Linked DNA regions of Homo sapiens: all the other regions are linked to region 4. Evidence: fine-mapped expression QTL. A gene starts in region 4. Each other region holds a variant in brackets. All regions are shown on one strand. Distances are between the middles of the regions.

What was found. PIP is the estimated chance that this variant, and not a neighbour inherited with it, causes the effect. A credible set is the group of variants that fine-mapping cannot tell apart.
Region 1: its variant is the best candidate, but not a certain one, in a credible set for the expression of SLC38A1 in CD4 T cells (CEDAR, PIP 0.68).
Region 2: its variant is the best candidate, but not a certain one, in a credible set for the expression of SLC38A1 in whole blood (INTERVAL, PIP 0.76).
Region 3: its variant is the best candidate, but not a certain one, in a credible set for the expression of SLC38A1 in thyroid (GTEx, PIP 0.89).
Region 5: its variant is the best candidate, but not a certain one, in a credible set for the expression of SLC38A1 in aorta (GTEx, PIP 0.53).
Region 6: its variant is the best candidate, but not a certain one, in a credible set for the expression of SLC38A1 in whole blood (INTERVAL, PIP 0.54).
Region 7: its variant is the best candidate, but not a certain one, in a credible set for the expression of SLC38A1 in T cells (TOPMed, PIP 0.78).

Annotation. Positions count from the first base shown.
Region 1 is chr12:46,187,604-46,192,217 of GRCh38, reverse strand. It overlaps SLC38A1 (solute carrier family 38 member 1), which reads left to right. Exons shown (of 17, transcript NM_030674.4): 17 at 3,147-4,614. The coding sequence ends at 3,248. Among named protein-coding and RNA genes, the nearest start is that of SLC38A1, 79 kb to the left of the region's middle. The variant G/A (reference allele first, on the strand shown) is at 2,052.
Region 2 is chr12:46,196,109-46,200,722 of GRCh38, reverse strand. SLC38A1 (solute carrier family 38 member 1) reads left to right here. Exons shown (of 17, transcript NM_030674.4): 14 at 1,980-2,098; 15 at 2,663-2,804; 16 at 2,906-3,003. Among named protein-coding and RNA genes, the nearest start is that of SLC38A1, 71 kb to the left of the region's middle. The variant A/CA (reference allele first, on the strand shown) is at 2,450.
Region 3 is chr12:46,158,245-46,162,858 of GRCh38, reverse strand. No RefSeq gene overlaps it. Among named protein-coding and RNA genes, the nearest start is that of SLC38A1, 110 kb to the left of the region's middle. The variant ATTTTT/T (reference allele first, on the strand shown) is at 2,507.
Region 4 is chr12:46,266,785-46,271,398 of GRCh38, reverse strand. SLC38A1 (solute carrier family 38 member 1) reads left to right here and starts at 2,356. Exons shown (of 17, transcript NM_030674.4): 1 at 2,356-2,873. LOC105378248 (a long non-coding RNA gene) reads right to left here and starts at 2,328. Exons shown (of 2, transcript XR_001749101.1): 1 at 2,241-2,328. RefSeq lists silencers at 1,807-1,906, 1,987-2,166 and enhancers at 2,577-2,676, 2,727-2,776, 1,916-2,898, 2,897-2,956, 3,882-4,614.
Region 5 is chr12:46,219,222-46,223,835 of GRCh38, reverse strand. The region is part of intron 5 of SLC38A1 (solute carrier family 38 member 1); the gene reads left to right. Among named protein-coding and RNA genes, the nearest start is that of SLC38A1, 48 kb to the left of the region's middle. RefSeq lists a silencer at 3,852-3,911. The variant A/G (reference allele first, on the strand shown) is at 2,207.
Region 6 is chr12:46,202,462-46,207,075 of GRCh38, reverse strand. SLC38A1 (solute carrier family 38 member 1) reads left to right here. Exons shown (of 17, transcript NM_030674.4): 9 at 914-996; 10 at 2,486-2,544; 11 at 2,659-2,775; 12 at 3,987-4,066. Among named protein-coding and RNA genes, the nearest start is that of SLC38A1, 64 kb to the left of the region's middle. The variant A/G (reference allele first, on the strand shown) is at 2,051.
Region 7 is chr12:46,177,974-46,182,587 of GRCh38, reverse strand. No RefSeq gene overlaps it. Among named protein-coding and RNA genes, the nearest start is that of SLC38A1, 89 kb to the left of the region's middle. RefSeq lists an enhancer at 4,271-4,400. The variant G/A (reference allele first, on the strand shown) is at 2,071.

The sequences.
Region 1 (4,614 bases), 79 kb after region 4:
AACAGAACCAATGACAAAAACCACATGATTATCTCAATAGATGCAGAAAAGGCCTTTGACAAAATTCAACAGTGCTTCATGCTAAAAACTCTCAATAAACTAGGTATTGATGGAACATATCTCAAAATAATAAAGAGCTATTTATGACAAACCCACAGCCAATATCATACTGAATGGGCAAAAACTGAAAGCATTCCCTTTGAAAACTGGCACAAGACAAGGATGCCCTCTTTCACCACTCCTATTCAACATAGTGTTGGAAGTTCTGGCTAGGGCAATCAGGCACAAGAAAGAATGAAAATGGTATTCAATTAGGAGAGGAGGAAGTCAAATTGTCTCTGTTTGCAGATGATCCCTGATTGTATATTTAGAAAACCCCATTGTCTCAGCCCAAAATCTCCTTAAGCTGATAAGGAACTTCAGCAAAGTCTCAGGATACAAAATCAATGTGCAAAAATCACAACCATTCCTATACACCAATAATAGACAAACAGCCGATCATGAGTGAAATCCCATTCACATTTACTCTGAAGAGAATAAAATACCTAGGAAGCCGACTTACAAGGGATGTGAAGGACCTCTTCAAGGAGAACTACAAACCACTGCTCAACGAAATAAAAGAGGACAGAAACAAATGGAAGAACATTCCACGCTCATGGATAGGAAGAATTAATATCATGAAAATGGCCATACTGCCCAAGGTAATTTATAGATTCAATGCTATCCCCATCAATCTACCACTGACTTTCTTCACATAATTGGAAAAAACTACTTTAAAATTCATATGGAACCAAAAAAGAGCTCACATAGTCAAGACAATCCTATGCAAAAAGAACAAGCTGGAGGCATCATGCTACCTGACTTCAAACTGTACTACAAGGCTACAGTAACGAAAACAGCATGGTACTGGTACCAAAACAGATAATATGGACCAATGGAACAGAACAGAGGCCTCAGAATTAACACCACACATCTACAACCATCTGATCTTTGACAAACCTGACAAAAACAAGAAATGGGGAAAGGATTCCCTATTTAATAAATGGTGCTGAGAAAACTGGCTAGCCATATGTAGAAAGCTGAAACTGAATCCCTTCCTTACACCATATACAAAAATTAACTCAAGATGGGTTAAAGACTTAAAGGTAAGACCTAACACCATAACAACCCTAGAAGAAAACCTAGGCAATACCATTCAGGACATAGATATGGGCAAAGACTTCATGATTAAAACACAAAAAGCAATGGCAACAAAAGCCAAAATAGACAAATGGGATCTAATTCAACTAAAGAGCTTCTGCACAGCAAAAGAAACTACCATCAGAGTGAATAGGCAACCTACAGAATGGGAGAAAATCTTTGCAGTCTACCCATCTGACAAAGGGCTAATATCCAGAATCTACTAAGAACTCAAACAAATTTACAAGAAAAAAGCAACCCCATCAAAAAGTGGGCAAAGGATATGAACAGACACTTCTCAAAAGAAGACATTTATGCAGTCAACAGACACATGAAAAAATGCTCATCATCACTGGTCATCAGAGAAATGCAAATCAAAACCACAATGAGATACCATCTCACACCAGTTAAAATGGCGATCATTAAAAAGTCAGAAGACAACAGACGCTGGAGAGGATGTGGAGAAATAGGAACACTTTTACACTGTTGGTGGGAGTGTAAATTAGTTCAACCATTGTGGAAGACAGTGTGGCGATTCCTCAAGGATCCAGAACTAGAAATACCATTTGACCCAGCAATCCCATTACTGGGTATATACCCAAAGGATTATAAATCATGCTACTATAAAGACACATGCACATGTATGTTTATTGTGGCACTATTCACAATAGTGAAGACTTGGAACCCCAAATGTCCATCAATGATAGACTGGATTAAGAAAATGTGGCACATGTACACCATGGAATCGTATGCAGCCATAAAAGAAGGATCAGTTCATGTCCTTTGCAGGGACATGGATGAAGCTAGAAACCATCATTTTAAGCAAACTATCACAAGGACAAAAAACCAAACACTGCATGTTTTCACTCATA[G/A]GTGGGAGTTGAACAATGAGAACACATGGACACAGGACAGAGAATATCACACACCAGGGCCTGTCGTGGGGTGGGGGGCCCGGGGAGGGATAGCATTACGAGAAATACCTAATATAAATTACAAGTTGATGGGTGCAGCAAACCAACATGGCACATGTATACCTATGTAACAAACCTACACATTGTGCACATGTACCCTAGAACTTAAAGTATAATAATAAAAAAAAATACCTGAGACAGGGTAATTTATAAAGGAAAGAGGTTTAATTGACTCACAATTCCACATGACTGGGGAGGCCTCACAATCATAGCGGAGGGCAAACAAGGAGCAAAGTCACGTCTTACATGGTGGCAGGCAGAGCGCATGTGCAGGGTAACTCCCCTTTATAAAACCACCAGATCTCATGAGATTTATTCACTATCACAAGCACAGCATGGGAAAGACCCGCCCCCAGGATTCAATTACCTCCTACCAGGTAACTCCCATGACACGTGGGAATTATGGGAGCTAAAATTCAAGATGAGATTTGGGTAGGGACACAGCCAAACCATATCATCATCTGTCCACCTATGGCCTTCATCAGCCCTTCAGGTAACTTAGTTTTTGACACCTGTTTCCTATTTCACTTAATCAAATCTATTTTGCTTTTGTATGTTTTTTTTCCACTTTTTCAAACAGAAATGTTTGCTTGCCAGTGATAAGCTAAGTTGGTAGGTAATGAATAACAAAATGACCTGGATATTTTCTAAGGCCTTTATTCCCCCTTGGTTGTAATCTTAGTTTGAGAGAAGCCATAAGGATACCCAGTTATTTGTAGAATGGATACATACACTTGAGGTGACCATGAAGTCAAAGAATGGGACATAGAGGACTACTCTGCTTAGCTAGTTTTTTTTTTTTCCTATTTTCCCATCCTTGCAGAATCAGATTCATAAAATTTTAGAAAGATTCTCACAGTTCAGCCATGGTTGTGACAAACTCTGAATACCAGAGGACACAAAGGGAGAGGAAAAACTGTTCTATTTTTTTTCCCCAGGTACATGTGGAAAAATTTTGCTGCACTGAAAATAACCCTTGCCTTTCTCTTGCTCCAGGCTGCCCTTTTCTTGGGCCTGGGGGTGTTGTTCTCCTTGGTCAGCATTCCCTTGGTCATCTATGACTGGGCCTGCTCATCGAGTAGTGACGAAGGCCACTGAAACCCGCCGAGAAAAAGAAACATCCCTGTTGTCTGCTCAGTCAAGTCCCCACACATCAGCAATCTCTCACCACTTCTTTTGCAAGTTTACAGAAGCAAACAGAAATGTACAGGATACTTAAAATGGAATAACTTTTTGGTTGCAAAACAGAGACATGGTTCTATAATGCTTCATGTCCCTCCAAGATTTGAGATCAATTTAGGGATTGTGAAATTTTTTTTTCAAATTTCATACAATCATATTTCCCAGTACTTTTCACAATCATTTTTTACCCATCTAACTCTATGTTTTGTGGCTTCCCGGTCTCTTAGAACTTTGAAAACATGATATACAATAATGTTTATTTATTATACATCCAGATTCTGAAATAATTTTCCTACTGATGTTCAGCTCACACTATCTGTACCTTTTTAGAAGAGAAAAGAATCTTGAATTGTATATATTTATTTTGCTTTACAGAAAAAAATGGTTTCGTAAATAATTTGCCTATTTTGGTTAACATAGCACATGGAGATAATCATCTGAAAGTTATAGGGCACTGCCACTGCTGAATCAGAGCATGCCCAATATTTGAGGTGGCTCTGATTTCCTGGCAGCTGAACTCGGGTAGTCCAGTGGCCTAGCTGGTACCACATCTATTCCCATCCAGAGACATTCTCTGGCAAGTGTTCTCAGCTGAAAAGTGGTTGGGGATGATTCTTACCTTGGTAATTAAATGAAGCTACACATTTGGGTAATCTAGCAAATGAAGTATTTTTTCCCTCTTGGCAACTTGTGTCAGAGTTACTCTGGTCTGAGTCAACTTTCGCTGGGGAAAACCTATGGAACCTACTGCAAAAAGATTGTCCAAAATGCCTAAGAAAATACTCCTCTGATGCATTTAGCCTTCAACCCTACCTGTCTTGCTGAAGGGAGAAAAATGTTTTAGTACATTATAGGCCCAGCAGCTTTTATTCATGTCCACCAGCTAGTTGCACAGAGAATCATGTGTACCTAACTAAGGATGATCTAGGATAAGTAACTCCTGTTTTATATTGAGTATTTTAGGGAAGTCTTTAAAAGACTTGTTTTATATCTATAAATCTAGGTTATTACAAATACAAGAATTTTGTACCTTAAATAAGCCTCATTTCTATTTCTTCTTCATTAATTCTCCATCTAGTCTTGTGAAAAAAAAAAAAAAAAAACCCTCAGAGATAGTCTTTGTGAAGAGCTTCTGACAGAATCACTGAGTACCTTCCTTCCCCCAGATGAGGAAGACAAGGGGGTCTCAGTGTCTGTGCTGTCTCCTCTTCTCTTCCCCAACCAAGGACTGTGCCATTACTGCCCGTCTCAACTGTCCATGCAGGAGGACAGAGTTGCCTGG
Region 2 (4,614 bases), 71 kb after region 4:
AGAAAGAGCAGAGTGCTACACTCATGACACTCTGAGTTAATTAAAAATGAAACTTCTAATTGTTCACTGGAAGTCGAAGCCTTGCAAAGATCCAAAGGAATGATAGAAAATTTTAAAAAATGAAATCTGAAAAAGGGAACAAGTTTTCATATGTAACTTTTACTGACCCTGAATGAACAGTTTACCGGCGTTTACTGCTTCTTCATCCTCTCCTATTCAAATTATCCTGAAGCTTGATTTAATATCTTTCATTATCTTTATAATTGGGGACCTAATTTAAATATATATATGTGTATATATATGTGTGTCTATATATATGTGTATATATATGTGTGTGTATATATATATATATGTATGTATTTCACAATCTTCTCTACTAAATAATAATTCTTTGGGACTTTTTTTCATAAACACAAATGTCTCAAAATTAAACACATTTAAAAAGTATTAATTCAGCCTGGAGAAAAAGGCTACTCTGATTATACAGATATTATTATTGTTTTCACTAGCAATAGAGAATGGCATTGTCTAATGAATTCATAAATACCACATTTAATTTTTACATAAAAATGGTGTTGCTAAGGTGCATACAGAGTTGTACAGGGAGAGAGAGGCGGAGAACTTAATGTTAGTTGAAGTCTCACTGTTGTCTTGTTGAAGCTATAATTTTTCTTTGTAGATGCATTATTTTTCACATAGAATAGAACACCAAACACTTTTATTACTCTTGGATTAAAGAAAAAGGATTAGCTATTTTTTAAGTGGTTAGTTATTTTGAATTAAGGAAATTAGAACTAGTGAGATTGGTATTATAACTTATGGTTCTTTTTTGGAAACTGAGACCAAGCTAAGCTCTATGGTACAGATTAGCATTTGAATTCCATGCTGAGGACCTTGAGACTGGTGCAGTGAGAGGCCCTTGCAGGAGACAGGAGGGGAAATTACCTCTTGTCAAAAGAGTGAGCAGTTCCATACTCTATGTGACTGCCATTCTAGCTTTGTTAGTCTTTGAAATAACACTTTCTGAAGTTCTGGATTGAGAAAAAGTTCAAAGTAGTACATAAGGCCAGGTACGGTGGCTTGCACCTGTGATCCCAGCATTTTGGGAGGCCAAGGTAGGTGGATAGCTTGAGCCCAGGAGTTCGAGACCAGCCTGGGCAACATAATGAGACCCCCATCTCTACAAAAAAAAAAAAAATACAAAAATTAGCCAAGCATGGTGGCACATGCCTGTAGTCCCAGCTACTCAGGAGGCTGAGGCAGGAGGATTGCTTGTGCCCATGAAGCAGAGGTTGCAGTGAGCCAAAATGGCACTATGGCAACCATATTCCAGCCTGGGTGATAGAGCAAAACCCTGTCTCAACACACACACACACACACACACACACACACACACACACACACACACACACACAAAGTAGTACATAAACTAATTTTTTTTTTTTTACAAGAACAACATACATGAAAGAGTGGAATTATTTCCTGATGGTGAAATTTCAACTAGTGTCTCTGCTGCTTGGCCACTTGAAGTTGACTTAACAAGAGAAGAGTTTGAAACAAGCTCCAAGGTGGCTTGTAGCTCTCCCCACCCCACCCCCTCCCTGAGCAAGCCTGTGGCAGTTTGGTGTGGTTTGAAGAGTGGAGGGAAAGTCTAGATTAAGAGCAGCTTCGCGTTTCAACTGTATGTTTCATTCTCGAGCCCAGTGTACTCCTAGGTTTAATTTAGTCTAAATTAAGCATTCCCACTCCATGTAGCTTCTTCCAGTGATTACTTTAAATTTCTTTGCTAAGTCGCGTATGCACAGTGGAGCATGTCTTACATAGAGATTTTTCTTTCCAACCTGATTGTTTTAATAGACATTTCGAAACATTGCTTTTCTTGCCCTTTAGTTTACAGATTCTTTGTTTTTCAGAAAAACTGTCATTCAGCTATATACTTTGTCTCCTTTTAAAACCCTCTTGCTTTTCCCTCATTTTAGACAACGTGCAGTCCGACCTCCTTCACAAATATCAGAGTAAAGATGACATTCTCATCCTGACAGTGCGGCTGGCTGTCATTGTTGCTGTGATCCTCACAGTGCCGGTGTTATTTTTCACGGTGAGTAAGGGCCTCTGTGCAATATGAGAAAAGCTGAGGTCTCGGCTTTCCTTCTGCCTGCAGGAGCCCGTTGCAGAGAAAGCCTGCCCCAGGTAACTTTCCTGGGTTATTGAATCTGCATCTGGGAAAGATCCCAAGACTCGGTTCAGGCTCTTTGAAAAGCAAGTGGCATTCAGTGCGTCAGGGAGCCTCTGATGCAGTGAATCTCCATTCTAATTAATCTGACCCTGTTCTTTCCAAAGAAATGACAATAGAATGTTCAAATCTCAGTAGACATGAAGAGAGAATATAAAAAGAACAGAAATGAACATTCAAGTCTTAGATAAACCAAAGACAGAAATTACACCCCCC[A/CA]ACAAGAAAACTCTACTACTCATAAATAAAAATACTTTCCCTCTTAAGTCAAGCCCCCGTACTTCCAAAACTGTTAAGCTATCTATAAATTCACTAGGCATTACAAAACATTTCATGAATTCCTGTGCACCAATAAATCAGTTACTCTGCAGAGAAATGTCAATGTTGGCATGCTGTAGGCACTTACAGAATCTTTGTTTTCTTTTCTTGCAGGTTCGTTCATCTTTATTTGAACTGGCTAAGAAAACAAAGTTTAATTTATGTCGTCATACCGTGGTTACCTGCATACTCTTGGTTGTTATCAACTTGTTGGTGATCTTCATACCCTCCATGAAGGATATTTTTGGAGTCGTAGGTATGGCTTCATGACTTTGTGCTTGTCATTCTACAGTAGCTGTTTGCAGGGAAATTTTCACAATAGCAATGCTAAACTTTCTCTTTTGTCTTATTTTACAGGAGTTACATCTGCTAACATGCTTATTTTCATTCTTCCTTCATCTCTTTATTTAAAAATCACAGACCAGGATGGAGATAAAGGAACTCAAAGAATTTGGGTATGTCTCTTGCCAGCCACTCTAACTTTTCTGATTAGTTTTCCATTTAAATTTACAAAATAAATAGTCCACCTCTCTATCAAGACTACTTTCAGTTGCCTTGAAAGGAGGCAGAAGCCCTGTAGCTTTGCTACTTGGGAGATATTTAAAATATCATATCAGAATCTTCTCCCATCCCTCCAAATATCTTTTCTGGTTTTACTCTTTTTTTTTGAGATGGAGTCTCACTCTGTCGCCCAGGCTGGAGTGCAGTGGCCAGATCTCAGCTCACTGTAAGCTCCGCCTCCCGGGTTCATGCCATTCTTCTGCCTCAGAGAGTAGCTGGGACTACAGGCGCCCGCCACCATGCCTGGCTAATTTTTTTTCTTTTTTCTTTTTTCTTTTTTGTATTTTTAGTAGAGACGGGGTTTCACCATGTTAGCCAGGATGGTCTGTATCTCCTGACCTCATGATCCGTCTGCCTCGGCCTCCCACAGTGCTGGGATTACAGGCATGAGCCATCGCGCCCGGCCCTCTGGTTTTACTGTTATTGTGCCTCAGCTTTTGTTCTGATCCAGGGCATGGCCAGTCAGAAGAATGGACATTCATCCTCCTGTGTCTCTATAGGACAGTGTCTAGTCTTCAGCAAGAGAGGAAGTGACGAGGGACTCACAGATGTTATGCAGTCCACTGTTTCCATATGATTTCTAGTCATGTAACTCCTCCCTACAGCCCAGGGAACATGCAATGCCTTAATTAAAATGTCTGAGTTAGCTTAAATAGTCTTTTTTATTATTTGACAGATATGCTTTGGAACAACAGACCTGGATTCAAAAACTACCTTTCTATATTGGGATTCTTGTTTCCAGGTCTGGTGAAGTTCAAGGGCATCTTGAACGTGGTGCACTTGGAGACAGTGAGGGAAGCAGGGGTGAAGTGGCTGCTACCTGAGTCCCTTCTGGAGCTCCATTTTGCTTGGTCTTGGAGAAGGCTTCTCAGCTGCCCTCCCAGCTAGTGTAAGCACTGCAATTGTACCTGTTACCTGAGTCAACAGATCCAGATGAGAGGTGTAGGCAGGAGGGTCATCTCTGTGCATTTAGGAAAAGCAGCACTGATGCTAGTAGAGCATCCAGTTCCCCAACATGATCACCCCTGAAGCCTTAATTCCCAAATCCTTCCAAGCCTTATCTGTAGGGGCTTAATGAGGACAGAGAGGAAGAAACAGTCACTCTGGCACAACAGGACAATATATTCAGATTAAATCTGAAAATGGTGGAGGCCTGCTGCCCATGAATTCTGAGCCTCTCCAACCCTGGTCCCATAATGAAACTAGTAGTAGGGTCTTCCAAATGGCATTAGACAAGGGTTCCATCTGTGTAAGGACCACTGGGAGTTAGACTGGACCCAGGATGGTATGCCATGTGCAGCCATGTCAACCCCCAATTTGCTCCTCTCCTTCCTTAGCTCTTTCTCTTCCTCCAGTTTCCAGTCCAGCCCTGTTGGCTCTCAGAATGCATCATCCTTCTCCCTGCAGCGCTCTCACTGAACATGCTCAAGCGCAAGGAACTTATAATCTTGTGTTCTCTGGATTCTGGATTTAGTAATCTGTATTAGTCTGTTCTCACACTGCTA
Region 3 (4,614 bases), 110 kb after region 4:
TGTCTTCAGCTCTAGATCAACAATTCCTTCTAAGTTAAGGACTGTTTTCCAGAGAAAGTGAAAGTTTCATGCCAAATACAGGAACTGAGCAGAATTTGAGGCTAAAACATCCTCTCTCAATATCAATTAACCCCAGGCCGAATTGCAGTAGACAGACTATCATCTGTAGCATCATCCATGATTTAGAACAATGCAATCATGAACTGCAATCTGTAAGTATGCTTTCCTCGCCGAGCAACCCACTGTCTGGTACCAAACAGGTAGAAAGTCATATCTAAGGGGTTCCCCAGTTATCATAATTTGATTTCAGCAAATAATCAGATGATCTTAAGATCTTCTAGATTATTTCTTAAAGGGAAACTCAATAGAGGAAATTTAGCTAACAGAATACCTATCTTTCCAACGTCTCTCTAAAACAAAATGATTTGGCTTTTATTAAAGGAGACTTCAAAGCAAACTCTTTTTGCCCAGTTCACCTTCATTATCATCGAAGCTAAAGAGAATTCAGCAGATATTAGGATAATTCCAAAAGACTGTTTTTTGCTCTTGGGTTATCTTGCTTTCCAAATGATACCCCAAATCCCCAACAATCAAGTAGAATTCCAGAACCATTTAAAAGCATAGGAAATTTCAACACACCCTGTCTCTTCAGAACCCAGTTGCTTTCAGAAAGAAGAATTCTCTTTATCAGTATTTTAGAAGGACATATCAAAATGCTTGTCATTTTGAAATTTCTATTAATTTTGTATTACTTCGTACTTTTCAGTTCTCAAAATAATACTGTGAAAGTGACTATTTTTTTTTTTCAATTTTCCCAACTTTGTTGGGGGTGGGGAAGCATACGATGTAAATTTATTAAATCTAGGCTAGAACCTCATAACACCGTTTACTAGAGACAAATTTGGTAAGGAGGGTCCAACTTCTATGGTAAGTGGGTTAACTGATGAAGGAGCCTGTCCTCATGGGGCAGTTTCAGCTATAACCAGTGCTACAACACTGCCCACAAGCAAAGCCTTATATCAGACCACCACACAAAATGGAAATAAGGTAGGAAACAGGCCTTACATCCTGCCCAAAAAGGCATCCAGCATAACCTGCCTTGCAGTGAACTGGCTTGGGTTCTTGTACTCCTTTGGAGAGTAGTCCTTAGGTAGGTAGGGTAGGAAGCAGAGCTCCATTCTTGGGGTGGAGGACCAGCCTGAACAAAACAGTATGTCAGAACCTCCCTCCACTAGACGAGGCTTCAGGAAGCGGGCTGTCTTTTACAGAGATTTGGTGTCCTAGGCAGGTAGAGATATCCCCAGTCAGCTCTATGAGCACTAGTCCCATGTCTGATGGGAAGCAAAGCTAGACTCTGGAGTCTGTGTGTGTGTGTCTGTGTGTGTCTCTCTCTGTGTGTTAATGCCTGTTCTTCTGTTCCACAATTCCCCCACAAGGCCCAAGGACAAATGTATTGTCTAGGAGAATTTGCAAGGAGGTAGGAACATGGCTCTGGACTCAGACTGACCTTGGTTGGAATCCTGCCTCTGCTACTTAAAAGCTAAGTGACATTGGGCAGGTTTCCTTAATCTCCTTCAGTCTCAGTGTCCGCAACCAGAAAGTGGGAATAATAATAGTCATCCCATAGAATGGTTGTAAGGAATAATTAGACTGGATAGCATATTGTAAATTTTCTAGCACAGTATCTGTCACATAGTAAGCCCACAATAAGCGCCCCTATTAACATTAAGATGATCTTATCTGTGCCATTTTCCATGCTTCCTTTGAATTCATGGAACAAAGTAGTGAAAAACTCTGCTCAGCAAGTACAAAATCATTGTTTAGACCAGATCTGAGGCCAGCATAAAAGCCAAAAGAATGTTGTAGTTAGAGAGTCCAAATGCAACCCTAGCTCTTCTGAATTCCCTAAGGGGCTGCTCAAGGTAAAGCTGTCACAGAGAGTTTGTGATTAAACCATTGGATAAAAGCCAGACACATTGCATGCTTGAAAAAGGAGTTATTTTCACAAGGGTAATTGCCAGAGACTGATGCAGTCAAGAGTCAAAACAGGGTAGATTCTCATCAGAAATGTGTGCCCACAGAAAAGACTCTTGGCAGAGGACACGCAGCATTAGGCTGTGACATCAGACTTTTGGGCCACTGAGTTGCATAAGCAGGCCCAGTAGAGCGAAAACTCACCAGTAAGAATTAACGCTGGTGGAAGTTTAAGAATGCCAGGCCCCAAGAAGCGTGCAAAATCACATTGCTACGGAACAGCTGGTTCCTTCAGTGCCTGAGATCTTTGCCAGATTCCATCTTTTTCCATAATAATATATTACCTCTATTAACTTACAGAATCCAGGGCAAGATTATATGAAAACTACTAGATGCTGTGCAAATGGCCCCTTATCTGTAACTAGAAATTATGTATGTTGTAATCAGTTTGCTATAACTAAAACTGCGAGCCCCAACATGAAGAATCTTGTTCTTCATGGCATAAGACGCTTGAGCAGCTTTATTTTATTTT[ATTTTT/T]TAACTGTCTTTGGCAGCCGTCCAATAATACTCGGTGAGAAGCAGTCCCTTGCACTCCAGCCACTCCCTTGCTGCTCCATTTAGCCCCTTAATAAAGCTTGTTGAGCAATTAAGTCAGGAACATTGAAACCTTACTCACCTTCAGTCAACCTTTCCTTAATTGGGCAATCAATTTACATGCTTCCAGTCCTGACAAAAGAGAAATGCAGTTTTGGCTTTCCAGGAGCGAGCTATTAAGATTGTAGCCATTTATCTGAGTACTGGCTTCTTAGTTACACACATGTAATACAAAAGAAAGATCTACGTGCTTGTTTTCATACTTCATCTTTCTTGATTTTTTTTAGCAAGTGGAAGTTTAAAATCATTGGCTCAAAACATAAAAACACTATTGATATTTCCATAGTATCTTTTTACAATTCTCAGGGTCACTTAGATTTGTGACTGAAAAAAAAAAAAAACATAGCCCTCAAAATGGCTATTTGAATGATTATAATTTCACAAATACATCTTTTATTTGAAAGAATAGTGAACTGAAGTAAGGCATCATTGGTGACTTGTTCCAAACAATTGGTTACACAAGTGTATTTAAAAAGGAAAGCTTTTGTTCACTTTCATATTTTCACTTAGAAGGTTCTTCTTAAATATCTGAAGTGAATTTGCAGGTTGAAAAGTTACAGCCTCATTCATAGATTGGGAACAGTAGTTCTCAAACATCTGTGTGTGTCCAGTGCTGTCCCAGGATCTAGTTTTCACTGGCCAGGAAAAAAATGAGAAAATCGAGCACATTGAAGTGAGGTTTTTTTTTTTTCTTTCATATATTTGAAAGTATTCCATTTAAAGGGCTGACCTTTTCCTAAGATTTTTTGGCTTCTCTCTATCTCCATACTTCTTTTATTTTTAATTGTACTTGTCCATGAAATCTAAATGTCGGGAACCACTGCTGGTATGTCTAGAAATATAAGAGCTTGTCCTCTGAGAATTGGCTGAGCTCACTAAATTCACATTGTGCAGGCCACAGAAAAACTGTCAGCTTTAGGTCAATAACAATTTGGCTCAACTAGCTGAAAATAGCCCCAAATGGTGTCCAGTCTCCTACCCTCTTCCTTGTCTAATTAAATCCACTTCCTCCCCAAATCCTGATCGTCATGAACTGCCTCCATTTTAAAATACAGGAAACGTTGGACCAAACTCATTTATTTGAACCCAAGAAGAGTGAGTAGTAATTGCTGGGTAACCTGTGCTGAATCCAAAGTGATAGAATAATCTCTGAAGAATGAAAATGGAAGGAAATAAATATTCTCACCTCTCTAAAAAACAATAATGTTCACCCACATAAAAAATCTGTAGGCAGGCAGCAGCTCCATTTTGATTCAGCTAGATGGCTTCACGCTAGTGAAGAAAACATTTTGGCAAAGAATTATTTTATCCAAAAGTAAAACACAGAATTCCAAGTACCTGGTATAACCCAAGTGAAAGCACATCCAAAGGAAATCTCTCCATACCCACTGCCTTTTAGCATTACCACTCCTCATTTTACCTCTTAATATAAAGCCACAAAGTGAGTACATGTAACTACAGCACGTCTTGGGCTGAGGTGGCTGGGAAATTTGATTCCCCAAAGAAAGGAAGAGCATGAAAATCCTCTGAGGAAAGTGATCTTGGCAAGGACTCTGGCTAGGACTCCAGCCCATGTGGATTTCTCATCCTTTGAAGTGTTTATGGTTCTATCCAGTTTTTCATCACTGAGAGAGAAAGAAAAAAAAACTACAAAGTCCTCTCTTTTATAGAAGATATTTTCAGATTTAGATTTTAGCTAGCTTCAAATTCTTGTACACAGAGATACATATAAAACTGTCACTTTGATAAAGTTCTAGGAAAAAGTTAATATAATTTTAGAATCCTGTCTACTGAGTATCAGTAGCCATCCTTCATACCCCATAACCAATTATCTACTCTGGTTGATGAGAACCTTCACAGTGATTCTTTTGGCTAGCTTTTATGCCATAAGGAAAGCAAAGTTCCTGGATCTGACATGCAGAAAATCTTGGTTTTAGGAATTCTAAAGAATAGAGAGCAAAGTTTATAAAACAAGAGTTCAGGACA
Region 4 (4,614 bases):
ATCAGGAATGTCATGAGAATTAAACGAGAGACCATCTGTGAAGTGTTTAACCTGCTGTTTGTCTCTCAGTAAGCACACAGTGAATAGAGGAATCATCTAGACATCCCTGGCCTCAATTTGAGAAAACAGCAGCCTCCATGTTGATGTTTACTCTGGTTCTAGGTTGTCAACTAAAATCCAGAGAAGGGGTGAAGATCCTTCTAACTCTAGGCCCAAGAATGTCTGATTGCAAATGGTTGTAGCACCACTGTGAAGACTGAGCACGGATTTTGAATTCAGACCTGAAAGGGAATCGCTTCCCCTTCACTAATTACTGTCTTAGGTGAACATGGCCAATTCAACTTTGTACTTGTTTTCTTAAAGAGGATAATACCCAACTGAGGGATTGAAAGCTTTAAATGAGATATTTACATGTAAAGTCCTTAGCACAATAGCTGCCATATCATAGGAGCTCAGTTCATAACTGTTGATTCCAATTCAAAAAGTGCTAAATAACTGCAGTCGTTTTGATATACAGAAACTAGCAAGTAAGTTAAAATTGGAACCAAAAGACAAGCTTGGTTCAGATAATCTCCAAACAGCGATGAATACACATTCTGCCTTTAATAAGGTAAATATTCCAACAGGCCTATTAAGCTATGGCTCACAGTTCATCTACTTTACCTATTCAGATTTCTTACCTTATTGATAAGAATTATTTGTGCCAGGCAAGGTGCACACTACTTAAAATCATTAATTTCACAATAAATTAGCTTCCTCTAGTAAGGTAGAAAGAACCAACTTTTTGATGACCTATAGAATATTGCTATGTTGTGTGTACTCTTCTCCCCTTTTTCACAAATTTAGAAAACAGGATTAGGACAAAAGTAAAGCAGATGAGGGAAGCAGTAAGTGTCAGAGGAAGAAATTGAATGCAGGTCTGTCTGAGCTAGGCTGCCCATGTGTTTGCCCTTTTGGTTTGCTCTGAACTTTCTGTTTTTCAGTATTTCTCAAGAGCATGCCTTCTAAATAGGATTCTCAGGAAGCCACTGTTGAACTAATAAAGGCCATTTACTGCCATTCGAAGGGAATAAGAAGTTTAGTCCGTGATGAGTTTCAAATTTGGTTATCATCTTGCTTTTCCAGTGGTGATGAAAAAGCAAAATTCACCCAAATACAATGACTACTGTCTACTTGAAACGCTCCAGGTAGTTAATTTTTGAATTATGATTCACCTTCCCTTTCCTGTTTTGATGAACCATGAACAGGAGACTGAACCTTCCCTATCAATAAAAAGCTCGCGTTTCCACCCTGCAAATTCGCGCTATGACAGTCTAATTGGCTGAGGCGCAGGTGGGATTTCCTGTCGCCATTTTAAGACACAACTCCTCTGCAAGCAAGTGCCCAGCCAGTGAAAGGGGGCTGTGTCTGAAACAAAGAGTAAGCGGGAAAAAAGGGAACCAGGCCCAGTTGCCCCTGCTCCCCTCCATGCCGCTCCCTCGTCCCCCGGACTTGGAGCGCCCCAGCTCCGTTAACCTGGACGCACCAGGTCCTTCGGTCGGGACCACGTGGGGTCTCCAGGCCCTCCAAGAGCTGGCCCCCGGCTCTTTGCGCCTAGGCCGGTGCTTTCTCGGTGCTCAGCAAATCCTTCTGGTTCACCTCACACCCAGTCCCCAAAGCAGAGCTCCACAGGGCAGATCTCAGGAAGGGCTGACCAGGTCTGCGGGTGCTGGATCCGGAAGAGGGGAGGTGCCTCCCGCTTCAGGTTAGGGACAAAGGGTTTTTAAAGGTGCCCGAGCTCCCCGCCGCCCCTGCCACTTCGGTCCCCTTCCCGCCAACCCGGGCCATCTGCAGGCTGTGCCCAGGGCCAGCCCTCCGCTCCAACGCTGCCCGTAGTCCCAGGCGCTGCCCGCGGCTCTCCGGGCTGCGCTCGGACCTGCCACTCCCGCGGCCATCCTCATGCTGCGCCCTTCCCACAATGCAACTCCCTCGCTCCTTCGGCCCCGGCGGGGCTCTGGCGTACCCAAAATGCAGGCCCCAGCGGAACGCACAGCCCTCCTGTCCTCCGCCGGTGCCCCTTTAGCCGCCCCACCCCCATCCCTAAGGGCTCTCATTCTCCAGCTGCAGCCGCAGCTGGGTTCCGAACACGCCGCCGGGCCCCGGGAGGGAGAGGGGCAGGTGCCAGGGCGGCGCGCAGCCTCTGCTCCCGGTGCCAGCTTCAGTGCGCCGGGCACACGCGCGCCCCGCAACCCCTCCCTCACCCTTTCCCCGTTGCTCAATCTCCGCCAGCCGCGGTCGCTGCATCGTCAGAGAGCTGCAAGAGGGAGGCAGCAAGGTGCGGCCGCCAGCAGTGACACCATGTGACCGGCACGGCTCACTGACACGCAGCTTTGGTTAAAGAGCGGGCGCACAGGAGGGGAGGAGACCGCGCGCGGGACGGGGAGGAATGGCCTGTCCGCGTTAAACCATCACAAGCCATGGTTGCGGAAGGGCCACGCGTCCCCCAGTAGGAGAATGACTCCGATTCGTGACCCTCAGCGCCGGTGCATGTCGATGTAAGTGCGAGGCCGGCGAGCAGAGTGTGAGTGGGGGTTGGTGGTGAGGGGAGATTCTGATGCAATCGGCCCGGAAAGGAGGAGAGCCAGGCGAGCGCGGACTGGGGCGGCCACGCCACTCCGCCAGAAGGTCGCCAGGAGCCTCCGCCCTTCACCTTCCTCCGAAATCCGCCAGGCCACGCCAAGCTCCCTGCCCAACCCTTACTGACGGGGGCCACATTTTCCCGGCCTCCGCAGCCAGACCTTGACACAAAGGACATCAAACTGCCGAGGGTAAAAACCCCGGAAGGGCGGACACCTCCACATCGCCTTTTGCCACCTTTCCCTTTATTTCCGGAGGTAAGGTGATTATCCGTTCCCGGGGAGGGCTGGGCGAGCGGCAAGGGGAGATTTAGATGTCGGAGGAGGAGGTAACGTAGAAATCATCTCTGCGGGCGTGAAAGCAGAGAGAGCTCGGCTGTGCCCGATGCTTTCGGATGTTGCTTTTAGGAGAGGAAAAGTCCAGGTCTCCTGTGCTTCCCGAACGCACGCGGCAGCGGGAGGAAGCGCCAGGGCCCCCGAGTTCACCTTTGCGTGGGCTGTGGCTTACTTTTTGGTTTGTTTTCCTGTGACTTTGGTGTGTTTTCCTGTGGCTGTGGCAGAGTGTGGTACCAGATCTGGTTCCATTTTTACGAGAGCCAGGAACCACGCACGTCTGGAGGGAGAGCGCAGCTGACCCGAGGGCGCGACCGTGTTCTGGGAGTGTTTGAATCCCCGGCCTTTGGTGAAAATTTCCTGTGTCCGCAAGGCCCAGAGGAGATCGTGTGATGTCCGGGGGGTGCTGCGTGCGGCCGGCTGGGTAGCGGCCGCGGACCACCACTAAACCGGGGCATGTTTGCCGTCCTTCCTGGTGCTCTGCCCCTCTGTAACGCGGGGAAGTAGGAGGGCGCGGGGAGAAATTACTAAAGGATGCTTGCAGTGACTCACTGTCCTTTCCTGCCCTGAAGAGGATTTTCTAAAATGCAGAGGGTGGCAGGGGACAGAGGTAGTGTTTTTTCGAGAGCCGGGATGTGCTGGAGCCAGCGAACAAAAGGCCACCTCTTGCGCGGTCTTGGGCGCAGACTGCTCTCGCTTCCAGTCCCACCTCCTCCCCAACCCCCGGCACCTAGTTCGCGTCCCTAAACGTTGCCGCAGAGGCCTTTAAACGCGTGGGTCGGTGCCGGGAGGAGAGCGCATCTTCGCCCTTGTGCGAGCCCCTTGCCCCCTAAATTATCCACCTCCTGGCGCATGGGGCTCCCCAGCACCCACTGGGACCCAGTAGGTTACCCGGCTGCCTGGGCACCGTTTGCCTGCCAAATCGCCCGCCTGAGGTTTGTGCTGAACTGTAGTTAGAGAAGGCACAAGTGCATATGGCAGCAAAAGGAATTTCGCGGTACCCGCGTCACGCCGCTCCCAGTGCCTTTCACAGGCTGCCTTGGGCTGGGGAAGGTGGTGCTACAATTCAGAGTCCTTTGTCTTGCTCTGCGGCGCGGACCCGGGGTTTGTACAAACCCTCGTTCTCTGTTAGAAACCTAACTGCCGCCAGGATCACGTACTTTCTCGGACGAATCCGCGGTGATGTGTGTAGCAAAAGTGAAAAAAGACGCCTCTGCTAGAAAACGGTATTTATTTGCGTTTGGAAGGGGTTTTGACCTCTCTGCAGTGGGTTTTTACATTTTTCAATATAAGGGGGAGGAGGAAAATAAATTTATGGTTTGCAGAATGCAGGGCCCAGCGAGGGTGTAATTTGTCACCTTGATAAAAGAAACTGTGCAGCAACTCGTGCTTTTTCTGACGTCAGAAGGACAACGGAAATAAAACCTGAGCTCGGTGCATGGCTGGCCTCGTTGTCAAATGTCTCATGCCAATTTGGTACTCCCGAAATCTTGCAAAACAGCCAATTCCGGGGTACTGACCTGGTGTGGACCCCCTGGATTTTGGTTCGACCCCAGCCTCAAAATGGCCTTTCTCTTGAGAGTCACTCGATTTCTCAGTATGTCGCTGTAAGCAATTGGAAACTGGAATAGTTTGGTTTGAGGTCTTAATCTTGAGGTTTATTCGC
Region 5 (4,614 bases), 48 kb after region 4:
TTATTTTTATTTTAATAATGTAGTCCTTAAGTTGAAAACCATGAAAAACAAAAGTAGAATTCACGACACTTCTGAGATATCAGTTTATTATTAACACTGAGTTTGTGAACAATCTCTTTGAAATGTTAATTGTGAAACAAAAGTACAATGTGTGTAAAACAATAGTTTAAATTTTATTTGGTTGATTATAATACCAGACCTTTTGGATTCTTTTTTTCCATTTTCTATCTCATTTGTGTTGTGGTTGTGGGAGTGAAAAAGATAATTTATCTAAAAACAGACTTTGAAAAGTGGCATGCAAGGAGACTTTTATTAGTACCAACGCATAGAGCTACTAGGAAGAATAAATGAGTGGGGTGTGTGTGTGTGTGTGTGTGTGTGTGAATGTGAGAGAGAAAGAGAGATGGAGAGAGTGATAGTAGTGCGTGGTGCATAGTACACACTGTAGATATTTGTTAAAATACTACAGTTAGTATTAGGTAGTCACTAAATAATGGCTAACATTTACTGAACAGTATCTATATATGCTACACTATCTTAATCCCCACCAACAACATTATGAGGTAGGTATTAGCCCCATTTTACAGATAAAGTAACTGAGGCTTAATAACTTACCTGTGATCACACATTAGAAAGTAGGGGAGCCAGCGTCCCATCCAGGCTTGCTTGACTCTAGAGCCAGCGTGATCTAAAACACCATACCGCCTTTGGTGATGCCTTCTTCAGACACCAAAGTTGCATTATTACTCTACAACTTGAGAAAAACTTTATTTTTATCAACGGATGCTTGCAAGTTAGTACTTACCTTTTACTTTCCAATATAATGTACCTTTAAAATCACCTTATAAAATCAGCCAGTGTTCCTGAATTATCTTGCTAGTGTTCCACCAATAACCATCCCCTTTACTGTCATGAAAACAGCTTGGCAATATCAAGTGTACCAAACTGTAGACCGAGGATGTCAGGTTCCTGTTCACAACAAGTAAAATGTATGCTTAAAGTATATTGTGAAACCAATAAACCTCTCAGTGGCTTCATATTTGTCATGTGGGTTCCTGCATGTGCAATTTAAGATTTCCCATTGCTTTCAGGAGCTGTTGAACTCCTGAAAGAAGTAACTAAACATTTTGTTATTAAGAATTAAACACCAAGTGATAGCAAAATCAAATAATACCAAGTTTAACCCTAGGAAACTTGTTAAATAACCATGGTACTTTCATAAAATAGAGTATTAGACTACTACTTAAAAGAGTAAAATAGACTTATATGGGCAGGTGAGGAAAAATCTCCTAGGTTGTAACGGGGAACATAGTGTGTAGCACTATGTTACTGCGTAGCATAGTATTATTAATACTGTGTAGCATAGTACTATTACATGAATACAAACTGAATATTGGGTGGAAGTGAGCATGGAAGGAGGGTGTGTCTATATGTATACATTATATTGCCCAGAATATTTGGGGAGGGTACACAAGAGAACTGTTGGCAGTGGTTACTTCTGGAGAGTGAGAAAGGGTCTAGAGGTGGAGTGGAGATGGAAAGTTTAGACTCTTTGAATTTATTTTTAACCTGCTTTTAGAGGAAAAAAAAAAGCTAGTTGAAAAAATTGGTTTTTTGAAGAACTTAACACCAGTGCAGTAAGACTTTTTCTTTTTCCTCTTACCTGCTAAAAACTTGAGAGAGAAAATATATTTTTGGTGTAGATAGTTAGACCATGAAGCTAGAATGAGGACTCTGTCAATGCTGTGCCACTTGTTCCAGACTGTATTTTCAACCTCTTTTCCCTTCAGATGACCTCAGCTTCTGCCACACTAACCTTCCCTTTTCTGTAGAGGCTGCCTGCCTTAAAACTGTTACCTTGGTCTTTCCAGAGCCCACCCGTACCCTGTCTCATCTCTGTCTTCTGAATCCTCATGGTCCTGGAAGGCCTAGATCAGATGTTATCTCCTCCAAAACTGCTTGTCTGATCCTCCCAGGTGGAAGGGAGGTCTCTCTTCCTTTCCTTTTCAGTGTCATTTGTATCTTTCTAATAGTAAGTATCACTTCCATTATTTAAGCATACATTTTACCTTCCCTATTGAATGCTGAGCCCTACAAGGGCAGGATTAATGCCAAATTCTTCCTTGTTGAAATCATCTTCCTCCCGCTAACACGATCTAGAACAGCATTTGCACGTAGCTGCTCCTCAGCAAAGTTTTACTGAAAT[A/G]AGTGAATGGATATGTAAGAATTAGATTTTGCAAAACCAGAAACAAGGCTTTAGGGCAAAACAGTGGCTTTCATTATTGTTGCAAATTTATCAGAGAGAAAAAAGATCAACTGAAAGGTTTAGTTCACCCTCAGACTTTTAGTAGGCTGTGGAGATGTGATAATAATCACAGAGTCAGCATGGGACTGGCTGCTCATTGTCTACTTTCCTAGGAATGCCTCCTTCATTTGAAAATTCAAAATAGTTCTGAGACTGCTAAGAAATACTAGATGAGGTTGGTATTGCAAAAGGGCATTTGTTGTTAAATTGCTGTTTGGGAAAAGGACAGTAATTGTCATTGTCAGTTACAGCAATTATCTTCACTTTGGTGGATTGTTCACTTAATTGTAGGTGAATTCTCTGGCCCTCTCTCCCTCCCTGTCTCTCTGTCTGTCTCTCAATATTCTCCTTTGTGGGCCATTTGTAATTATCCTACCAGCAAAACTATGCACCATTGTATTGTCTATGATCCATGTTTACAAACAAATCAGTTAGTACCCCTTCCAGTAAGGATAAGTCGAAAAATATAAGGGTCTCTGTAAACTGAGATCAGACTACCAGGTCCCTTCTCTCTTTAAATTTAGTGTTTTACAATTGAGCCTACATAAGGAGTAAATAGAAATAGAAGTAAAAGTATAGACCCATCAGCACGTTGCCCTAAGTCCTTGCTTGTATGTTATGGGAATTTGATCATTATTATCCCATCACAAAAAATAGTCTTCTCATTCTATCGGGAGAATTATATTCTTAACCAATTGCACCAGCATCACTTTCTGATGTCTCTAAATATTTTTCAGCAAATTCTACTAAGTTGCAGTGAGATTGCAGCATACCTTTATACAAACTTGGCCTGCTCTTAAGCTATCGTTGCTTTATTACTTTACATATATGCCAAAAAGGTTGAATGACACCTACCAAGATAATAATTTTGCTCTCAGTGGCAACGAAGATGGTCTGTGTGCTATTTATCAAGTTATTCCTTATAAATGGTAAGTCATCTCCTCTGTGCATTCCTAAGTGAGCAGTTCTTTGCCTCCTTAGGAAATACCAAACTGGATCTTGTGATCTAAAGACAGAGCAGTTAAGAGGAAGTCAATAAGGAAACCCTACTCTTCCGGATGATCCTAGGAGGTCCATCGGACTAGTCACATTCATCTTTCCTCTTGCCAATCAGTTTCTTGTTTTTAGAATTCTTTGAGTTATAGTCACAGTTCCTTAGAAATGATTTGAAGAGAAAATTGTCCTTTGGCTGGCAGCAAAAATCATTGACATCAGAGTCTGTTGTTTGGGAGTAATAACCCGGGAGAGGGAGAAATGGCACATTCAGGCTTGCCAACATTTGAAATACATGGAAAAGGGACAGTGGCAGTGCCATTGAACTCTATTGAAATCCACTGGATTAAGAAGCTTTTCAGAAATAGGGAAATGGGAAAGTGGTTAGCATTGCGTTAACAATGAGTGCCTATTTTGTAAACAGAAATAGTTGGCATGTGTAGGAGATGAGTCCCACTCATTGTTTTTAGAAGTTGAGCAGCTATTGCTAGTTTATGAGTCGTCTGTGATGCATCTGATAAGGGGGTTCTAAGAATTCAATTCTCTTAGCCCCAGAAAGGTAGGGGTGTGTGTGCGTGTGTGTGTGCGCGCACATGCGCTAGAGTGTATACCCTGAGTTCACTCAGTCCTATTTATGCTGAGTTGCCTCAGGTGCCTTGGTCCTATCCAAGGACAGCAGTGTGATCTCTGTTTTGGTACAGTGTATTTTTCTTAGCCTGCAACAGACAACTTAACTATACTGGCTATGGTTTTACAGCATTATTTACCTCCATGATTGGTAGAATGCCTTCTCTGCTCACTCATCTGGTTTACAGTAGGCCAGGTTGGAGTTATCACAGTAGAGCAGGTTAAGTGTGGTGCAGAGAGTTGGATTTTCAAGGTTAGCTTGAACTTTTATTACTCACAGAGTGGTAGTTGGTTTAATTAGAAAACTACTCCTTTGTGGGCCAGTTAGTTTTGCTTTGTTCTCTGGCCACAGACTTTACCTTATGTCAGGCACATGATTTCAAAGATCTGCATCTATATCAGGGGTCAGCAAGGGACAGCCTGCAGACCAAAGCCACCCGCAGCCTCCTTTTGTGTGGCTGGCTAGGTAAGATTGACTTTTAATTTTATAAAGGACTTTAAAAAAGAAAAGATAGTTGTAAAGTGTACATTGTTCCATGAGATCTTTATAACAACCCTGTTAATTACCCCCATTTTATAGATAAAGAAACTGAAACTGCCTTTGCAAAATTATAACCAAGGAAATTATGACAGTGAAAGAAATCAGACCTAACCAACTCTATCTTGCTTCTAACCCTTAAGCTGTCCTT
Region 6 (4,614 bases), 64 kb after region 4:
GAATATTGCAGAAAGTTTTTCCTAGGCTGCGTTTTGTTTGTTTGTTGTTTCAACAATAAATTTCTTTGGGGCTATATAAAGGAAAAAAGCAGGAGAGCCATTTGCATATGCACATTTGAAAAGTAGATTTGTCTGTCATGCTATGAGCGGTAGATACTGCATTTTCCCCAGAGCCTGAAATCTATATCTAGTTTCTGTGAAATAGAACAGATATGCAGTATTTTTAACACAAAAGTGGAACGTGCAACAAAAATTAAGACCCTAGCCTCTTACTTAAAGAAGGGACATAGCATTTTGGGGGCGAAATTTACATGAGCCAACCTCATTAAAGATGTAGATAACCCTGGAAAATGTTGCAGCTACATTTGGCACAATTGTGTTTTGACTCCCTCTTGTTTAACAGTTCTTGTCAGTCTTAGTTTCTCTGTTTTCTTTCAAGGGAGAATCGTAGAAGCCAGAGTCTCTAGTGTTCTCAGGATTCAAGGTCAAATCCAAGGGATCAGGGAGAGAGAAATGTCTACCTGTAGTGACTTGTTTCTCACTGATACTAGCCCAGCAAAACAAAAAGGAGCTTTCTCTTTAAATAATTGATAGGACAAGTTGTAATCTGACAGAATGAAATGTGTGCATTCAGCTTTGAAACCATGTAAATAATTCAAAAGAATGCCACATTTAGCCAATGGGAAAAAAAAAAACCAATATTCCCTCTTCCATTACAGGGGAGTGAAGCTGTAGTATATAAGTAGGGGCTGGGTTAAAGTGTTTGGATAAGACCTGAATAATGATTTTAAAAATTAATGCATATAGTAAAAATTAATAAAAATATATATCATGATATCATGAAATTTTACATTGGAGGGGAAAAAAGTCACTTTCTAAAAAAATATAACCTAATCACTTAAATGCCTTTCAGAGCCTGGTACGTGGATGGCCGCGTTCTGGTGGTGATAGTTACCTTTGGCATAATTCTCCCTCTGTGTCTCTTGAAGAACTTAGGTAAGGACAGATTTTGCTTTTATCATATTCTGCAGTGCCCAAGTGAATCAGAAACTGAATAAAAATGGACAGTGTTGCCCTCTGCTTCCCCTCTGCATGCACTCAAAGATTAAGTACATGATAAATTGCAAGTATTAATCGGTCCCAACTTTAATATGGGATAAAAATAACAGTCAGTATGTGACCTCCTAAACAATCCCTCTACTGAGCTGTGGAGGGGAGAAGGGAGGTCCTGGGGCCAGGACAGACAGGGCTATTTTCAGTAGTACAACTTATATGCTACTCTAAGAAAAGTCCAGAAAATGCAATTCTCTTCATACGAAGTCTTAAATACCCTCATTATTTAGATAAATACATTTTCAAATCTAATATGGAGACAGAAAGCTGCCTAGATTTATACCCACAAGTATTATAAATTTAGAGAGTCTGACCAGCCTCAATTATTTCTCTTCGAAGTGGGAGAGAGAAATCAAAAGTCAGAAATGGCGGATAATCTCCAAGTCATATCCATTTGGCTTTGATCTACTACTTGTTTTTATGCTTGTATTTGGAGACAAGGATGCCTGATGTTAAGGGAATTTCATACATTGAATAATGTGACCAGACTGCCATCTAGTCAAAAACCTATAAAATGTATTTACTTTAATTCTGGGCTAATTCAAACAGAAGTTTGGATAAAAGCTCTCCAAACAATAATTATGAGCCTTAGTTTTTTGTTTTGTTTTGGATACAAAACAAAACAGCTCTGTAGTTGTTCTGTGAGGTTTATAAATAGATTTTTTTAACTACTTAATTTTCTGGTTTCTGCCTCTGTGTTTTCTGTACCTATAGAGGTAGCTCTTTTCAGTTAAGTAGAGAAAAGCTCTTCCCCTGGGTTGAAAATAATGCAGTCCCGAGAGGCTACTTAACTCTACCTTTCTGGAGGTCATGGTAGCAATTGGAGATCTCCCAGGCATTCTAAGGGGAGCTACTAAAGAGCCCCAGATACTCAATTTACCACTAGAAATTCGCTTCATCTACTCTCTGTCATCTGGGGAGAAAAGTATTATAACTG[A/G]CATTCAGTATGCACACAATAAGTGCATAATAAAGAGCTATTGAGGGGATCAAGGAGTAAATGGGTTTGCCCATAGGACTCCATCAGGGTCCACCAACACAGACTTACAGCAAAAATTGGAAGGCTCTTTTCTGCTGGATTCTGGGAATCTGTGTTCTCTAGTGTGCCAGGGAGAGTTGGAATCAAAACACGTAATATAATGTTTCTATTCAGAGCCCCATTTTTTTGCCAAATAAAGTAGCACTGTCAAATAATAAATCTTGTATTCACTTGGGCATGTATGTTTATTATTGGATCTCTAAAATATGCTTCAAATAATGCACTGAAATAAGTGAGGTGATGAATTTTGAAATAATAACAGTTTATGATGGGTAGCTCCAAAATTTTTAAAAATGGAAAAAAATGAAATAATTTATTTTTTACTTTTTTTTAAAGGGTATCTTGGCTATACTAGTGGATTTTCCTTGAGCTGTATGGTTTTTTTCCTAATTGTGGTAAGTGCTGATTGCAATGGTTGGTTTGGTTTTGTGATAGTACAATGGCATGTAATAATTATTCATTGGCTTTACTAAAGTCCATATTGCTTCTACTATACTTCTTAATACCAGGTTATTTACAAGAAATTTCAAATTCCCTGCATTGTTCCAGAGCTAAATTCAACAATAAGTGCTAATTCAACAAATGCTGACACGTGTACGCCAAAATATGTTACCTTCAATTCAAAGGTAAGTTTCCTGATCCTTTGCAGATGAAACAAGCATTTTTATTAAGGACATTCTATTTCTCATGCTTGTAATTGCACTGGTTTGAATGTATTAGTTCTCAAAAGAACACATGATACCATTGCTTCCAGATTACACATCTATGTAGAGATCCTTGAGAAATATACAAATATTATATTTTACACTCTCTCTTACCATTAAGCATTCTCTGTGAAAATCCCATTCTGGATAATTGTCTCAGCTTTTTCTGTGTAGAGTGCTAGGTGATACTTCAAAAACAGACTAACAACATCCTTAGCTCCCTTCTTCTGGCGATGACAGAAAGGAATACTGCAGACTTCCTCAGGTTGCACAGTTGAAATATAGATGCCACCACAAACTGGCACTTAAAAAACTCTCATACTATTAAAATATTGTTGATACAATGGGAAACAGAGGATTATGGAGTCAGTCAGGCTTGGATTTGAATCCTCAGGCAAGTCACCCAACCCCTTGAGTAAAAATAAGTATTCTATTCTGTATCTTACAAGGTTTTGTTAGAATGTGCCTGGCATAGTGCATCAGCAGAGTTAGGGCATAAGATAGGTTAGTTTTCACTTCTTTTTGCATAGGAAGTTAGATTGAGTGTGAGAGTTTCAAAGAGCCTTATCTAAGAAAACTAAATAGATCGCGATCTTTCTCCTTCTCTCTGATTGTAAGGATATAGCCAAAGTAGTGCAATATGGAACAGATTTTCTTTTCAGAGGGTATCTTTTAAGTCCGATTCCATGCACCTGATGTAGAGCGAAGAGCAGTAAACTAGAGGTGGGAGTGCTGGGCCAGTCGCCTGACCTGTTGGAGGGAGCCAGGAGAACAGCCACAGTCTGCCTACTGCTTGGGATTGCTGTGGGGACCCAGCGAGCTATCCTAGGAAGAGTGCCATGTAACTGGCTCATGCTGTATAAACAGGGGGTGTTGTATACCTGGAGTATATAAAATACACCATAGGTGAGCCAAATCCGAAGTCCCTCTGTGACAAGTGGCTAATGGCTCGAGCTAGACAAGCTGTCTTAGAAAAGCTGCTTCTACTTTAGAGATCAAAACCTCCCTAATAACCGAATAATCCAGGGATTCTGAAGAGCTGTCAGATAAAAAGACAGCTCAGAAATACTGGAGCTATGTCCTTTTTATGGTAAAAGTGTTTTTCCTAATGTCTATTCTTTTCTCTCAAATAGACCGTGTATGCTTTACCCACCATTGCATTTGCATTTGTTTGCCACCCGTCAGTCCTGCCAATTTACAGTGAGCTTAAAGAGTAAGAAATTTGTTTAATTTTTTATCTTAATCGTTTTACATCCCCTCATTAATAGGCAAGTATGCAATTAAAATAAACGGACTTGTCTAATGAACGTCAGCGGATTCATCACCCAGCTTCAACATTTACTCACATTGTGCCATTCTTAAACAAGCATTGTATTTTAAGAAACAAGAAAGCAAGAAAAATCAGAAACTTGCAGTATTTTGGGGGGCCATAAACATAAAAAGTAGCCAACCATGTGGGCTTTTTCATTAATTTGGTTTTTCAAATATTGTATCACCGAGGAAAGTTTAAGTATTTGTGTTGCTTTCCATTACGTATGCGTATTTTGCAAGTGGGTGATAATCTTCAGATTTATCTGTAAACTGCTAAATACATCGTCTCTGATTTGCCTGTGGGTTTGGGTGAAAAGGCTAGTAAATCAGACAATAAGAAATCAATATTAAGACCACAAACTAGGAAAAGAGAATATTGCTGTTCATTTTTAACTATTAAGAAAATTCTATGGATTTATTGATTTATTTTTGATTGCTGGTTTTGAGAAA
Region 7 (4,614 bases), 89 kb after region 4:
ATGGCCAAAGTCTGATATCCAAGTTCTTCTTGTGGACAGGGCTAGCACAGGAATAGCCTGGGTCTTTTACGGTGTGGCTGGGAATGAAGACCCCCTTGATGAACTCTTCTGGCCTACCCAGGTGACAGCAGTGCATTCTGTAGGGCCTCGGTGGCACACACGCAAAACTCAAAGTAGAAACCTGGGGTACGGGAGTCCAAGTCATGTTCTCCAATATAACTTCGTTAGGAATAAAGCTGATATTTTTATCCTTACATGCTTCCTATGCCTACTTCTTAATTGATCAAAACCCCAAGGGCAAAGGGTGTGAGTGAGTAATTAGCACTTTTAAACTCAAGCAGTGGTAAAAGTTAAAAGACTATTGAGAATCTGAGCAGATTTTGTTCCAAATTGAAAGGGCCAGTCCTGCAGTGCCTTTGATAGTTCTGGCTTCTTCCTTCTACTCTCCCTCCATGAGTATTTGCTAATACTGTTCCATTCCGTCCTTTTTTACACAGAATTGTCAGGGAAGAGCTATTCTCTGCCTTTCCCATGGAATTAACTATGGGCTTGTATTAGGGCTCTCCAGAGGGACAGAATTAATAGGATATATGTATATATGAAAGAGAGTTTATTAGGGAGAGTTGGCTCACATGATCACAAGGCGAAGTCTCACAATAGGCCGTCTGCAAACTGGGGAAGAAAGAAGCCAGTAGTGGCTCAGTCCGAGTCCAAAAGCCTCAAAAGTAGGTAAGCTGACAGTGCAGCCTTCAGTCTGTGGCCAAAGGCCAGAGAGCCCCCAACAAACCCCTGGTGTAAGTCCCAGAGTCCAAAAGCCAAAGAACCTAGAGTCTGATGTCCAAAGGCAGGAGGAATAGAAGGAAGCACCCAGCATGGGAGAAAGATGAACACCAGAAGACTCAGCAAGCCAGCTTAGCCCGTCTTCTTCCACCTGCTTTGTTCTAGCCATGCTGGCAGCTTATTGGATGGTGCCCACCCCCATTGAGGATGGGTCTTCCTCTCCCAGTCCACTGACTCAAATGTCAATCTCCTCTGGCAACCCCCTTGCAGATGCACCCAGAAACAATACTTTACCAGCTATCTAGGCATCCTTCAGTCCAATCAAGTTGACACCTAATATTAACCATCACGGGGCTTAATGATAACTTTGCAACTCAGATGTCCTGTTTTCTTACTTTCTAGATTTATAATTGTGTTCTACCTAGTTTGGAAAGGGTGGATGAGGCCCAAATAACTAGGCCAATTTTTGAATATCAATTTTTAAAAATCTTTTATTAGTTTACATGTTAGGCTAATCCAAGTTGGTAGAATAATCTGCTCATTGGGAGAGTCAGTACACCACCAAAATAACCTGACAAATTACCCAAATTATATAAAGCCATAGCACTTAGAATTGAACTGGGTACAAATAAATAAATAGATCATAATAGTGAATGCATAAATGATCCAAAAAATACCAGAAAGGTGGCCTTTCAAATCAATGGGGAAAAATAAAGGTTACTTAATAAATGATAGGAAAAAATACATAGTTTTTGAAGAAAATGAAACCAGATTTCTATATTACCCCTTATGTCTAAAGAGAACTTAGATATATTAAAGACTTTAAATAACACATGTGTAAATATATCTATTTTTATAAGCATGAAACCATGACTTAAATAAAGTATGTGTCAAAAAATTTAGTTAGCTTATTAATTAAGGAACAAGTAATATGTTTAAAAATTGGTCCAAAGGAGAACTCAAAGAACAGATACATATATCAGCAATCAGGAATTCTAAAATGAATTTGCTAATAGATGCAAAACTGGCCTGTCCACAGGGGGAAATTAATTGCATCTTTTTTTTTAATGTACTTTAAGTTTTAGGGTACATGTGCACAATGTGCAGGTTAGTTACATATGTATACATGTGACATGCTGGTGCGCTGCACCCACTAACTCGTCATCTAATTAATTGCATCTTAATCAGACAGAATTATTTTGTATGTCTGGACAATAATCATTTCCATCTCTCAGTTTTCTACAATTTAGAGGGTTATAAAGTAGCTCAAAAAACAAAAAAAGGGGGTGC[G/A]AGGCAAAACTCTTATAGAATCAGATAACCCAGAAGCAGCATATAATATTTCGTTGAAAGTACACCCACCCAGTAATCTTTTTTGCTTCTTTTAAAGTCTTTCCAGTTTCCGTAACAACTTCCCCTTTGTGACTATAAAAATCTCAAAGATTATTCTTGGTCATAAAAAGAATGGTCCCATTAGCCTTGGCCTGATTATTTGCATGGGTGCGGCAAGGGTGTTAATTAACCACATAAGCTTCCTTGAATTTGGTTTGCAATTCTAGAGCTATGTACTATTGAACAGCTACTGGAGCCACAGAACTGCACTTTTAAAAGTCTCTATGGGTTGAGGGGGAAAAAGTCTCCATCATTTGCTAGCTCAGGGCTAGGAAAGCAAGCCCGAGAGACTCCACCGTATTCACCTATACCATCTATAGATTTGGATGAATTCCTTTCTACTTGAGGTCGCTTAAATTTACTAAGGTTCATGGCCTGCCAGGAAGTGCTCTTTGTCACCACCCATCATAATAGGATCCTATAGACCAGTTTAGGTACTAGGCTCTAGGTTACAACCCTAGAAGGTTGGTACTAAGCCAGGGTTTTGTAGGCATTGGCTACAGAAATAAAATTAACCTTTGTTCCTTGGAGTTGTTTGACATACCTGTTAAATGACCATCATCCTCACATATGATCTTCCAAGTAAGGCCATGGTGACATTCAATTTTGTCCAGTTATGCACCGGGAAAGAAAAAGACTCTTGTTGAACCTATGCAAATAACTACATTGCTGTCAAAAAGGTAACTCAGTCACAGTGTTTAAACTCGGGGTGGGGGAGAGTTCAGTGAAAAGCAGGAAGAAAATGTTTAGTTTTATTTTACAAAAGCAGAGTCTACTGAATTGTTGTAGACTGAAGATAGCCTAAGAAGAAAGAGAAATGTCTTCCTTATATATCCAGCAAATACAGCCTTAAAACAACATCAATACAACCACAGTGAAAATTTTCCTCATCAGCTCATTCTGTCCTTTGTAATTGTGTTTTGCTGAATTTTGGATTGGCATTTCTGCATTCAGAAAGCTATGTGCTTCTGCATTGAAAAGACTCCTGTAAATTCATACTCATTACACAGGTACAGACTGAAAATTGTCTAAATACCATCAGCTCAGGGTTTGTACCCAAGAGTCTATTCTTTGAATAGACTTCGATAGTTTAAAGTACTTGGTGCAATCTTCTTCCATGAGACTCTGAGGCTCTTTCTTTGCTGAAGAACCAAATTTTGGCTTGTAGTTAATAGCAGAGACTAAGGTTAGTTTCAGGAAGCAGAAACCTATTTGATAATAAGACCAAAAGTTGTAGTTAATTTACCTCAGTAACTAATAGTTATCCATTATATCTTAGGTATCCTTACCGATAACCTTGAAGGACCACGTGGTATTCCACTGAAAGGTCACCTAATAATCTGTTTTGCCCATTTCAAAGTCCTTTGCAATTTTTCTCTTGCAATATATATATCTATATCTTATATAGATAATACCTTGGAGTGCAGAAGATCTCTCTTGTTACAAAACATAGGAGCCACAGAGGAAGTAATTGATCAGTAAATATTTTAAAACTCTGTATGACATACAATAGTGCTAACATGTAAAAAAATCTGAAAATCCAAATGGGATACAAAACTAATATTTGCCACTCATATGTTGCAATGGATGGGACCTGCCTCTTCAGTTTGAGGTTCAAATTATTCAAAATATTCCCCTGGCCAAATTTCCAGGATGCCTAACACCTCTTTCTTTCCCACTTCCAAATGGTGCAAGAACCCAGAGGTGTCTGCTTCCAAACTCCAGGCAAAGAGAGAACTGGTGAATGTAGGCTTCACAGCAGGCTTCCTTCCCACCTCATTCATTTCCGCCACTGCCACATGATGTCCTTGTTGAACACCGGCCCTGTGTAATCTGTTACATCTGTGTCTGCTGCTGCAATCATGTCCTCATAGGTCCACAACTTGAGGAGGGCTGAAGCAGCAGAGGAAGGTTGACCCCAATCCACACAGTGCTATGGTAGCTGTCACTTTCGGAGCCCAAGCAAGGAATGGCTCCTCAGTTTGCCACCAGCTCACTCCCAATCCATACCCTCCACCCTGTCTGGCTCAGGGGGGCCTTTTGTTTACAGCTGTACATTGTGTTAAAACCAACCCTCTCACTTTCCCCCAACCCTCTCACTTTCCCCCAACGCATGGGAGTTGAAACTTGATACTGATTCCAGGTTCTACTCCTGATGTCCTCATGGTGAGTTCCTCTGTAGAACTCTTACTGTTTCTTGCTCCTTCCACGATTATCTTAATCCACAAGTGAAGTATGAAAAGTAGCAAAACCCAAAAGGGAAAAAATTGAGTAGGAGACAATATTATTTTCCCAGGAGCTGTCCTGGTGCCTCTGCAACTTTGCCTGACTCAATAATTTTTGGTGCAGAAATGTCTGACTTGGGGCACTCAGGTTAAACCACAGAAACACTGTCACATCCTTCCTTTGGAGTGGTGCTTGCCTGATTGGCTCCTTTTTTAAAAA